Regions from separate parts of the Homo sapiens genome. Here region 2 is linked to region 1. The links come from fine-mapping of genetic effects on gene expression. A gene starts in region 1. The other region holds a variant in brackets. All regions are shown on one strand. Distances are from middle to middle. Region 1 holds the start of NIFK (nucleolar protein interacting with the FHA domain of MKI67). Region 2 overlaps NIFK-AS1 (NIFK antisense RNA 1).

Region 1 (5,377 bases):
GTGATGGTAAAAACTTACCTCTTATTGTGAGCCAAAGTCTGCAAAATACTCTTCTAGAAAATTCTGCCTATACCTGTACAAAGATTGTTCCTAGCAGCTTAATCTAAAGAGTTAAAAATATTAAAAAACCTAATGTTCGGGCTGGGCACAGTGGCTCGCTCATGCTTGTAATCCCAGTACCTTGGGAGGCCGAGGTGGGCGGATCATCTGAGGTCAGGAGTTTGAGACCAGCCTGGCCAAAACAGTGTTTAGTAGAAACACTGTTTCTACTAAAAATACAAAAATTAGCCAGGTGCAGTGGCCGGTACCTGTAATCCCAGCCACTCAGGAGGGTGAGGAAAGAGAATCACTTGAATCTGGGAGGCAGAGGTTGCAGTGAGCCGAGATCGCCCCCCAAAACAAAACCTAATGTTCAATAGGAGGGTGGATAAACTTTAGTAACCTAAGTAATGAGCAATGATGATAACAAAGGCAATAGAGTTACATGGATAAAGCTCAGATTATTGAATACAAAAATTCAGCTGAAGAATGATAGAGTAATATAATTTTAAAATAATACCATATGTACATTTATATATGTACACATATGTATTCTAGTACATATATATATAGTAAAAACTTATATATAGCAATGAAAACTGAATTTGTGGCCGGGCGCACTGGCTCACGCCTGTAATCTCAGCACTTTGGGAGGCCGAGGCGGGAGGATCACAAGGTCAGGAGTTCGAGACCAGCCTGGCCAACATAGTGAAACCCCGTCTCTAGTAAAACACACAAAAAATTAGCCAGGCATGGTGGCAGGCGCCTGTAATCCCAGCTACTTGGGAAGGTGACGCAAGGAGAATTGCTTGAACCCGGGAAGCGGAGGTTGCAGTGAGCTGAGATTGTACCACTGCACTCCAGCCCGGGCGACAGTGCAAGCCTCAGTCTCAAAAAAAAGAAAACTGAATTTGTGAATTTAATTCCCTAATTAAAGAAGTTGAAGAGCACTGGGAAGGGTACAAAAGGGACCTCAATTCTACCTACAATCTATCTTTACGACAACTAACAGATGATGGATGTGCACCCTATCCCCCACATGCTAAATCAAATAGGTGTCTATGGCTACAACCAATTAAAGTTTATGTGCGGGGAAAGAAAAGAAAGTGGGTCACTCCTCCACTATTGAAACAAGCTATGTAAAGCGTTTTCTCATTAGAAGGCAGGTATGACACAAATAGTAATTATACTTATATAGTGTTTATTGTGTACCAAGCAATCCTCTAAAGACTTTATATTTAACCTTTGACTAAATACTCCCAGGAAGTTTTACTTATATTTAACAGATCACAACACTGAAACATGGTAAGGTCATATCACTCTAACTAGTAAGGTGTAGAGCCTGACCCCAAACCTCAGCAGTCCAACTCCAGAGTCCTCACCTTTAACTATTCACTATATAAACCTTTGCTATTATAAGGATGCTTGTACCAAAGGCTAACACAAGAAAATGTATAAACCTGGGCCTCATACTAAAGCTCATTTACCAGGACTGTCAATTTAATGTAAGGATTTGGAGAAATGTAAAAAACAAACTTTTACAATAATACTGATTTTGCTCCTGTAGCTGTTTCAGATTCTAAACCTCCTCCACTCTCCTTTTTGGAATGAAATCTGATAAGCAATAATGTATGCGTGAACGTGCTCTTTAATGTCAAGGATAATACACATTTGAAAAACAAAACATTAAATCCAACTGCAAAAATCTTACCCTTTTACTTCTGGACAGCCTGAACCGTGTCACAGTGCCAAACTGGGAGAAATATGAAAAGATCTGGGTTTCGTCAAGTAGGTTAGGTAGGTGGCGCACATAGACTACTCCAGGAGTAAGTTGTTCTTGTTTTTTTCGCTAAAGACGTAAAGACCAGGTAAATTAAATATATAAATAAGAAAATCACATTGTAACAAAACCCCTAGCCCTCGGCCCAAGAACCTATTCTGCATTTCCACTTACCACAGTAGTAATTAAAGAACTGGCTGTTTAGTGTTTCTCTCCCCACAAAGGCCATGGTCAAGCAGTAGTCAACTATCTTTCCAGCCTGGCATCCCAGCACCCAGTATAATATTAGAGCTCAATAACTATGTCAATCAACGGATAAGCAAGGACATCTTTGAACAAGCCATTTTAGATCTTCTGCCCAGAGAACTCTACATAAACGTAGGCTTCAATTTGGTATGCATATTACTGTTTACTCGCACTTCATCGAAAAATTTTCGATACGCTTGTTAACTCTCACGGTACAGATTAGCCTTTCAACGTCTCAGTCATCATAGCCTTACCTCTGTAACAGGAACTTCTAAGTTTTCCTGTGTATTTTATGCTAAAAACCACAGAAAGTATAAGCGATGTCAGGGGCCCTAGTCAGCAAGTGGAACCTGGCAAATACTCTATTTTAATAACTCCCAGATCACCAACCCGGCATACAAACTTCCCGAATGTGTTAAGTCTGGGGCTCCCATTTTTGGGGGAAACGCGGAAGCGTGACAGCTCTAACCCGGAGATAACCTGTGGTATAGGAGCCTATTCCCTCCAGCTGGTTCTTTCTACTGCTTCTGTCACCCCAATACTTCCCCGTTACCCTCCACATGAAGGCTCCAGGGCCTCAGCGGCCAAACCCCTCCATCATTTACCGAACAGCGTAAACCCTTTCGTCTCGGAAACCGTGGCCTGCAAGCTTAAGAGGTCGGTCCCTGATTCGGTCGAATCCACTTGGGAGACCCTGGAGGTAATGAAGGCGAGCACGAAGGCAAGGGGCGCCCGGGCCGGAAACCGTGCAACCCCAGATACCCTCTAGACCCGGTCCATCGCCCCCGCTCGCAGCCTGGGCCAGGGTGCCTGCTCACCTGGGTTATGCGCTTGCGAACCTGCGCCACCTCCTTTTGAAACTCGACATCTTCCTGCGGATTAAGCGACAGGATTGGCCCAGCCGGGCCAGAAAAAGTCGCCATGCCAAAAGCCGCCGACGCTAACCACGCGGCGCTCCCGGAAACGTCGGGCTCCCAGCTCCCCCGAGGCGGAAGTAGAGGCAGGACAGGGGCGGGGCGAAGCGCTAAGGCGAGGCGAGGCGTGGCGAGGGGCGGGGAGGGCCATGAGTCGGGCGCGGGGTTGGAGCAGGAGTTGCCCGGAGAAGCGGGGGCGGGGCACGGGGTGTGGCGAGGCGCGGGGCGGGGCATAAATTGCGCCAGGGGCGAGGGCGGGGCACGAGGTCGTGCCGAGAGACTGGGAGAGGCGTGAGTCGCGCGGAGGCGCGACATGGGGCGTGACGAGGAGCGGAGGGCGGGGCGTGAGTAGCGCCGAGGCGCGGAGGCGGGGCGCAGGGGCGTGCCGAGGCGCGGCAGCGGGGTCTGGGGCTGGGGCTGGGCCGTGGGGAGCTCCCGCACCCTCGGCTGTCGGGGCGCCGGCTGGCTTCGCTTAAGAGTGCCTGAAACAATTACGTTCACGCCTACTTTCAAAAAAGGTCTAAAATAAATTCCAAAACAGTACCTGTGTCCTTGAGATGCTGCTCTCATTCCTCAATTTGCTTATTATTATTATTATTTTTTTTTGAGACAGAGTTTCGCTTTGGTTGCCCAGGCTGGAGTGCAATGGCGCAATCTCGGCTCACTGCAACTTCCAACTTCCGCCTCCCGGGTTCAAGCGATTCTCCTGCCTCAGTCTTCCGAGTAGCTGATTACAGGCGCCCGCCACCACTCCCAGCTTAATTTGTACGTTACCACTCCCAGCTTAATTTGTATGTTTAGTAGAAACGGGGTTTCACCATGTTGGCCAGGCTGGTCTCGAACTCCTGACCTCAGGTGATCCACCCGCCTCAGCCTCCCAAAGTACTGGGATAACAGGCGTGAGCCACCGCGCCCGGCCCTAATTTGGTTATTCTTTCACTCACTTGTGTGTGAGCTCTCCTGTGTGGCCCCGTCCGTCCGCGGCCCTTGGAGAACTTACAGCCTGAGGGCAGCATGGCTGCTTTAAGAGACCAAAGAGGCTTGTGGGGGAGAGGCACACTGGGTGGCGCCGGAGGGTCCCCCTTAGGAGGTGGCGTTAGCACCGAGGCCTGAAGGCTAAAGAGCGGGGTGTGGAGAACCGAGCGCCTGCCGTCCGCTGGACCGGACAGGCCTGCACAGTGTTCCTAGGTCTAGAAAGAAGGACGCGGCAGTGGGGTTGGAGCCCAGCACAGGAGGGAAGAGCTGCGAGGCGGCAGGCTGGAGCCCCATGACTGTGTGTCAAAGTATGAAACTGGGGTTTTGTAAATGCGAGGGGATGGGCGGGTTTAAAGCGAGGCTGTGGCTGTTTGCATCTTTCTTTTCTTTTTTTTTTTTTGAGACGGAGTCTCGTTCTGTCGTCCAGGCTGGAGTGCAGTGGCGCGATTTTGGCTCACTCACTGCAACCTCCGCCTCCTGGGTTCAAGCAATTCTCCTTCCTCAGCCTCCCGACTAGCTGGGACTACAGGTGCACACCACTACTCCCGGCTAATTTTTGTATTTTTAGTAGAAACGAGGTTTCGCCATTTTGGCCAGGCTGGTCGAGAACCCCTGACCTTAAGTGATCTACCCGCCTCGGCCTCCCAAAGTGCTGGGATTACAGGCGTGAGCCACCGCACCCGGCCTGTTTGTACCTTTCAAATACTATTATACTAGTGAGTAACTGAGTGGAGAGGAAGGGTGGGGAGTGGATTGCCGAGGAAGCAGGGAGGTGAGGCGAGAGCGACAGATCAAGCACAGCTGGTGTCAGGGGATAGCTGCGGCCGTGTTCTGGAAGCCGTGAAGGCGGCCCAGGGTGTGTGTGCCCGAAGAGTGGCCTGTGGGCCTGAGGTGGAGGCCCTGGGAGGGAGTGCCAAGCGAGGCCAGCCCACTTCCTCTGACAGACGTGCCTCCCACGCTCACAGTCTTCGCCTCCTTCACCCCTGCACCCTCCGGCTCAGCGCCACCGTCACCCCCAAGGGGGCATCCCTGACCCTGTAGCAAAGTCAGTTCTTCCAGTTAAGCGCTGTCTTCCCATTGTGTTTTCATGGGTAGGCTGGATTTTCGGGAGTGAGCGAGCAAGAGCAATTTGATTCTTTTTCAGGGCTGCCCCTTTCCATGGGCTTGTTCTTGCTCCCCCCAGGATGAAATCTTGGGGAGAGCTCCGCACTTGTGATTGCTCCTCAGATGTCAGTCAATAGAAGCATGTTCCACGCGTTCAAAATCTAATATCAAATGTCTCCTCTCCCCAGCTCAGTGTCTCTGGCAGAGAAATCCCCAAAGGGGAGCACAGTCCACATCGTCTTTATTCTTGGCTCCACTTTCTCTGTACACCCCAGTTTCTGTTTTTGGGCTTTCCAGGATTAGGACAGGGAAGAGAGGG
Region 2 (5,377 bases), 20 kb before region 1:
CTTCAAACATCTTCCCACAGCCTTCCTCATCTCAGCCAAGGCACCTCCCTTCTTCCAGTTGCTCAGGTCAAAGTCCTCGGTGTCAAACCCGACTCCTCTTTTTCCCTCTTACATTCATATCAAAATCATCAGCTACACCTGTCAGCCACCTTTTTTTTTTCTTTTTTTGAGACAGAGGAGTCTCTCTCTGTCACCCAGGCTGGAGTGCAGTGGCATGATCTCAGCTCACTGCAGCTTTGACTCAAGTTATCCTCCTGCCTTACCCTCCCAAGTAGCTGGGACTACAGGCACGTGCCACCATGCCCAGCTAATTTTTTATTTTTTGTAAAGATGGGGTCTCTCTGTGTAGCCCAGGCTGGTCTCAGACTCCTGGGCACAAGTGATCCATCCACCTCCACCTCCCAAAATGCTGGGATTACAGGGGTGAGCCACCAGGCCCAGCCTACTTTCAACATTTATCCAGAATGTGAGCACTTTTCACTTTCCTTGCTATCACCAGGTCCAACCCGCCACTGACGCCCATCTGGATTACTGCAATAGCATCAACCTCCTGTGTGTCCTTACAGTCTATTCTCAGTGCTGCAGTATTGAGCATTGATCCCTTAAACCGTAAACCCACTGATGCTCCTGACTCACTCAGAGTCAAAGCCAATGGTTTACAGTGGCCTCCATGGTCCTGACGCATCTGTTTACTGTCCTTCTCTACTTCTCCCTTGGCAACTCTGTTCCAGCTACACTGGTGCCCTTGCTGTTTCTAAAATAACCACGCCTGTAGTCTCAGCTACTCAAGAGGCCAAGGCAGGAGGAATGCTTGAGCCCAGGAATTCGAGGCTGCGGTGAGCTATAATCATGCCACTGCACTCCCACCTGGATGACAGAGTGAGCCCCACCTCTAAAAAAGTAAAAATAATAAAATAACCCAGCCTGGTTGGCCTCTGGGCCTTTGCACTTGCTGTTCCCTCTGCCTTAAAAGCTTTTCCTCCAAGATCTCTGCATGGCTCCCCGAATTCCTCAAAAAGATCACTCAAATGTCATGTTCAGTATGAGGCCTTCCTGATCACCCACTGAAAATGGCAGTCCCACTTCCACCTCTAGAAGTCCCTAAGCCCATTTCTTGTTTTATTTTTCTCCACAGTACTTACCATTTGTGCCACATAATGTATTTCTTTACTTCTTTTTTTTTTTTTTTTTAGATGGAGTCTCCCTCTGTCAACCACACTGGAGTGCAATGGCATGATCTCTGCTCACTACAACCTCCGCCTCCCGGGCTCAAGCAATTCTCCTGCCTCAGCCTCCCAAGTAGATGGGATTACAGGCTCCCACCACCATGCCTGGCTAATTTTTTTGTATTTTTAGTACAGACAGGGTTTCACCATGTTGGCTAGGCTGGTCTCGAACTCCCGATATCCGGTGATCTGCCCGCCTCGACCTCCCAAAATGCTGGGATTACAAGTGTGAGCCACTGCACCCGACCTTCTTTACTTCTTTATCTGGTAATTGCTTGTCTCGCAATGCTGAATATAAGCCTCGTGGGGTCAGGAATTTTTGTTTTATTCACTGCTGATCCCCAGTGCTTGACACATGGTGGGCACTCACGAATGTTTTGAATGCATTCATTCATTAAACAAATGTGATGTGCCAGCCTTGTCCCCATCACTGGGGATACCGCCTGGGAAGCTGGGGAGGATGGTGGCATGTCCACTTGAGTAGCAAGCTGGTCAGGGGACTGGGGCAGAGGAGCAATGCCTGGGACAGAGATACCTTCTCAAGCCATGTGAATTTTCATACCATTTGCATGTATTACCTATTCAGATAATAAATTAAATGGAAAAAAAAAGTCACAGGAGAATAAGGAGCCGACTGAATAACATGCCTTTTTATGGCTGGTTCTACATTAACATCAAATCAGATAGCTGGCTAAGTACAAATTTGCAAGGTAGGGAAGTTATACGGTTTGCATTTACTAAACTACTGGGTGCAGTTTTTAAAATTATACCAGGCATGTCTTGGCAGCGGTTTTTGTTTTTTATAAAGTTGATTAGAAGTCCGGGCACGGTGGCTCATGCCTGTAATCCCAACACTTTGAGAGGCCAAGGCGGGCAAATCACCTGAGGTCGGGAGTTCGAGACTAGCGTGAACAACATGGAAAAACCCCGTCTCTACTAAAAATACAGAGTTAGCCACCTGTGGTGGCTCATGCCTGTAATCTCAGCTACTCGGGAGGCTGAGGCAGGAGAATTGCTTGAACAAGGGAGGCGGAAGTTGCAGTGAGCCGAGATCGCACCATTGCACTCCAGACCAGGCGACAGGAGCAAAACTTGGTC[T/TA]AAAAAAAAAAAAAAAAAAGTTAATTAGAGAAAAGCCACAATATTTATCATCTAGCCAAGTGTTAAAGGAGAAATAGAAGAAAAATTAACACAGTCCTTCAGAATAAAAAAGCTGCCAATGAGTATCCTGCATCACTGCCAAAAAACATCTCAACATTTTCTCTTTGGGGACAGATAATTAGGATATTTCCCCAGGTTCCTCTTGCAAGAGTCCTACTTTCCCCCAAACCAGCAAACTCCTCTTTTGAATAGCCAAATCATAGAACCTGTGAATGAAGCTACAGAGAACAACAGCATTACTTATGGCACATTTGCTGTGGAAACTACGTTTGGCAAGTATCAAATGTCTGAATTTCTTTTCCTGGACCTTGTAGGGTTGACAGCATTTATTTATAACAGGGGAGATTCCAAAATTGGCTCCTATCAGCAAAGAAAAGTAATGTCTGAGATACTGCTACAAGTTCATTTTCTTTTTGTTAATAGAAATTGAAGCAGAGCAGGCCACTGCAATAATTGGTAAGCTACTTAATTATAAAACAGATTGGTTACTGCAACAGGATAAATTTGTAGACAGGTATGTGAAACATTCTCTAATTGGATCAATGGGACGGGACATTAACTCCTGACCTCAGGTAAACCCTAACTAGCCAAATTGTTTTATTATTTTGTCTTTATTTGTTTTGGAGAGAAAAAGGACAGAAATAGATCATCTACATATAACTTGAAAAATATTTCCAAAATGTTGAGGTTTACTAGCTGAAGTAGAAAAATGCTCCAAATTCTAAGTCCAGTGTTTACTTCGTGTTTATAGTTCAGGCCTCATGAATAAGAAATAAAACCAAAATAGCCCAGTGACTGGAAAACAGGAAATATACTCCGAACACCAAGGGCTACAGATTGTGTTTACAGTGATTGTGGTACTAAAGCAAAGTTCTCTTGTGTAAAATTATTTATTTATTTATTTATTTATTTATGTATTTATGTATTTATTTATTTATTTTTGAGACGGAGTCTCACTCTGTTGACAGGTTGGAGTGCAATGGTGCAATCTCAGCTCACTGCAATCTCCAGCTCCCAGGTTCAAGTGATTCTCTTGCCTCAGCCTCCCAGCTGGGATTACAGGCACCTGACAGGACACCCAGCTAATTTTGTATTTTTAGTAGAGACGGGGTTTCACCATGTTGGCCAGGATGGTCTTAAACTCCTGACCTCAAGTGATCCATCCACCTCGGCCTCCCAAGTGTTGGGATTACAGGAGTGAGCCACTGCGCCCAGCCGAAACTTTCTTTTTACATAGAGCCATCATTTTAATACATACCTAAGAACATTATATGCACTGTATATAATTATATATAATTATTTGCTGGCCAGGGGCAGTGGCTCATGCCTGTAATCCTAGCAATTTGGGACACTGAGGCAGGAGGATCACTTGAGGCCAGGAATTCCAGACCAGCCTGGGCAACATACTGAGGACCCATTTCTAAAAAAAAAAAAAAGGTTGGGCTCGGTGGCTCACGCCCATAATCCCAGTACTTTGGGAGGTGGGCAGATCACCTGAGGTCAGTCAGGAGTTTGAGACCAGCCTGGTCAACATGGTGAAACCCCATTTCTACTAAAAATACAAAAAAATAGCCGGGCGTGGTGGCTACAGATGCCTGTAATCCCATCTACTTGGGAGGCTGAGGCAGGAGAATCACTTGAACCAGGGAGGCCGAGGTTGCAGTGAGCTGAGACCATGCCATTGCACTCCACCCTGGGTGACAAGAGCAAAACTCCGTCTCAAGAAAAAAAAAAAAATTAGCCGGGCCTCATGCAAGTTCCCATAGTTTCAGCTACTCAGGAGGCCAAGGTGGGAGGATCACCTTAGGCCAGGAGTTCGAGGCTGCAGTGAGCTATTATCATGCTACTGCACTCTAGCCAGGGCGACACAGTGAGATCCTGTCTCTAAAAACCAATACAAACCAAACCAAACCAAAACTGCTTTGGCCATGCACAGCGGCTCACGCCTATAATCCCAGCATTTTGGGAGGTCAAGGTGGGAGGACTGCTTGAGGCCAGGAATTGGAGACCAGCCTGGGCAATATAGTGAGACTCCATCTCTATATAAAATAAATAAATAAATAAATAATTTGCCCATAAATATTGTAAAATTAATCGAAGTTATATTTCTTCATCTTTATACACAAATTCATAAGGTAAATATTTTCATGGTTCATGTCATTGGAATGTTGTATTGCTGGTGACCCAAACCCATTTGGTAAATATATTTTCACCAATTGTCAATTATTGGAAAGATGTTTCCTAAGCACCAAATTGCTTAAGGGGCATTTGATAGTGGTAGTTTCTGTCCTGTAGTAGTGTAGACATTGGTGGGCTGAGGCCGGGCGCAGTGGCTCACACCTGTAATCCCAGCACTCTGGGAGGCCGAGGCAGGTGGATCACCTGAGGTCACGAGTTCAAGACCAGCCTGGCCAACATGGTGAAACCCCGTCTGTACTAAAAATACAAAATTAGCCAGGTGTCGTGTCGGGTGCTTGTAATCTCAGCTATTCAGGAGGCTGAGGCAGGAGAATCGCTTGAACCTGGGAGGCGGAAGCTGCAGTGAACCGAGATCGCACCAGTGCACTCCAGCCTGGGTAAAAGAGTGAGACTCCAGCCGTGCACAGTGGCTCATGCCTGTAATCACAGTACTTTGGGAGGCCGAGGCGGGTGGATCACCTGAGGTCAGGAGTTCAAGACCAGCCTGGCCAATGTGGTGAAGCCCCATCTCTACTAAAAAGGCAAAAATTGGCTGGGCGTGGTGGCAGGCACCTGTAATCCCAGCTACTCGGGAGGCTGAGGTAGGAGAGTTACTTGAGCCCAGGAGATGGAGGTTGCAGTGAGCCGAGATTGCGCTACTGCACTCCAGCCTGGGCAACAGAGCAAGACTCCATCTCAAAAAAAAAAAAGTTAACACTAGGGTATAAACCCCTTTAATAATTTTGGATTTTTGCCAATCTCTTTAAGTGCAATGAGTTAACTGTAGATTTTCTCTGCCTGCTTCAACCTTCTCA

Evidence for each region. PIP is the estimated chance that this variant, and not a neighbour inherited with it, causes the effect.
Region 2: its variant is the best candidate, but not a certain one, in a credible set for the expression of NIFK in whole blood (INTERVAL, PIP 0.88).

The regions. Positions count from the first base shown.
Region 1 is chr2:121,733,863-121,739,239 of GRCh38, forward strand. It overlaps NIFK (nucleolar protein interacting with the FHA domain of MKI67), which reads right to left and starts at 3,013. Exons shown (of 7, transcript NM_032390.5): 1 at 2,884-3,013; 2 at 1,751-1,888. The coding sequence starts at 2,988. RefSeq lists an enhancer at 2,900-2,949 and a silencer at 3,050-3,499.
Region 2 is chr2:121,713,467-121,718,843 of GRCh38, forward strand. All of the region lies in intron 3 of NIFK-AS1 (NIFK antisense RNA 1), which reads left to right. Among named protein-coding and RNA genes, the nearest start is that of NIFK, 21 kb to the right of the region's middle. The variant T/TA (reference allele first, on the strand shown) is at 2,325.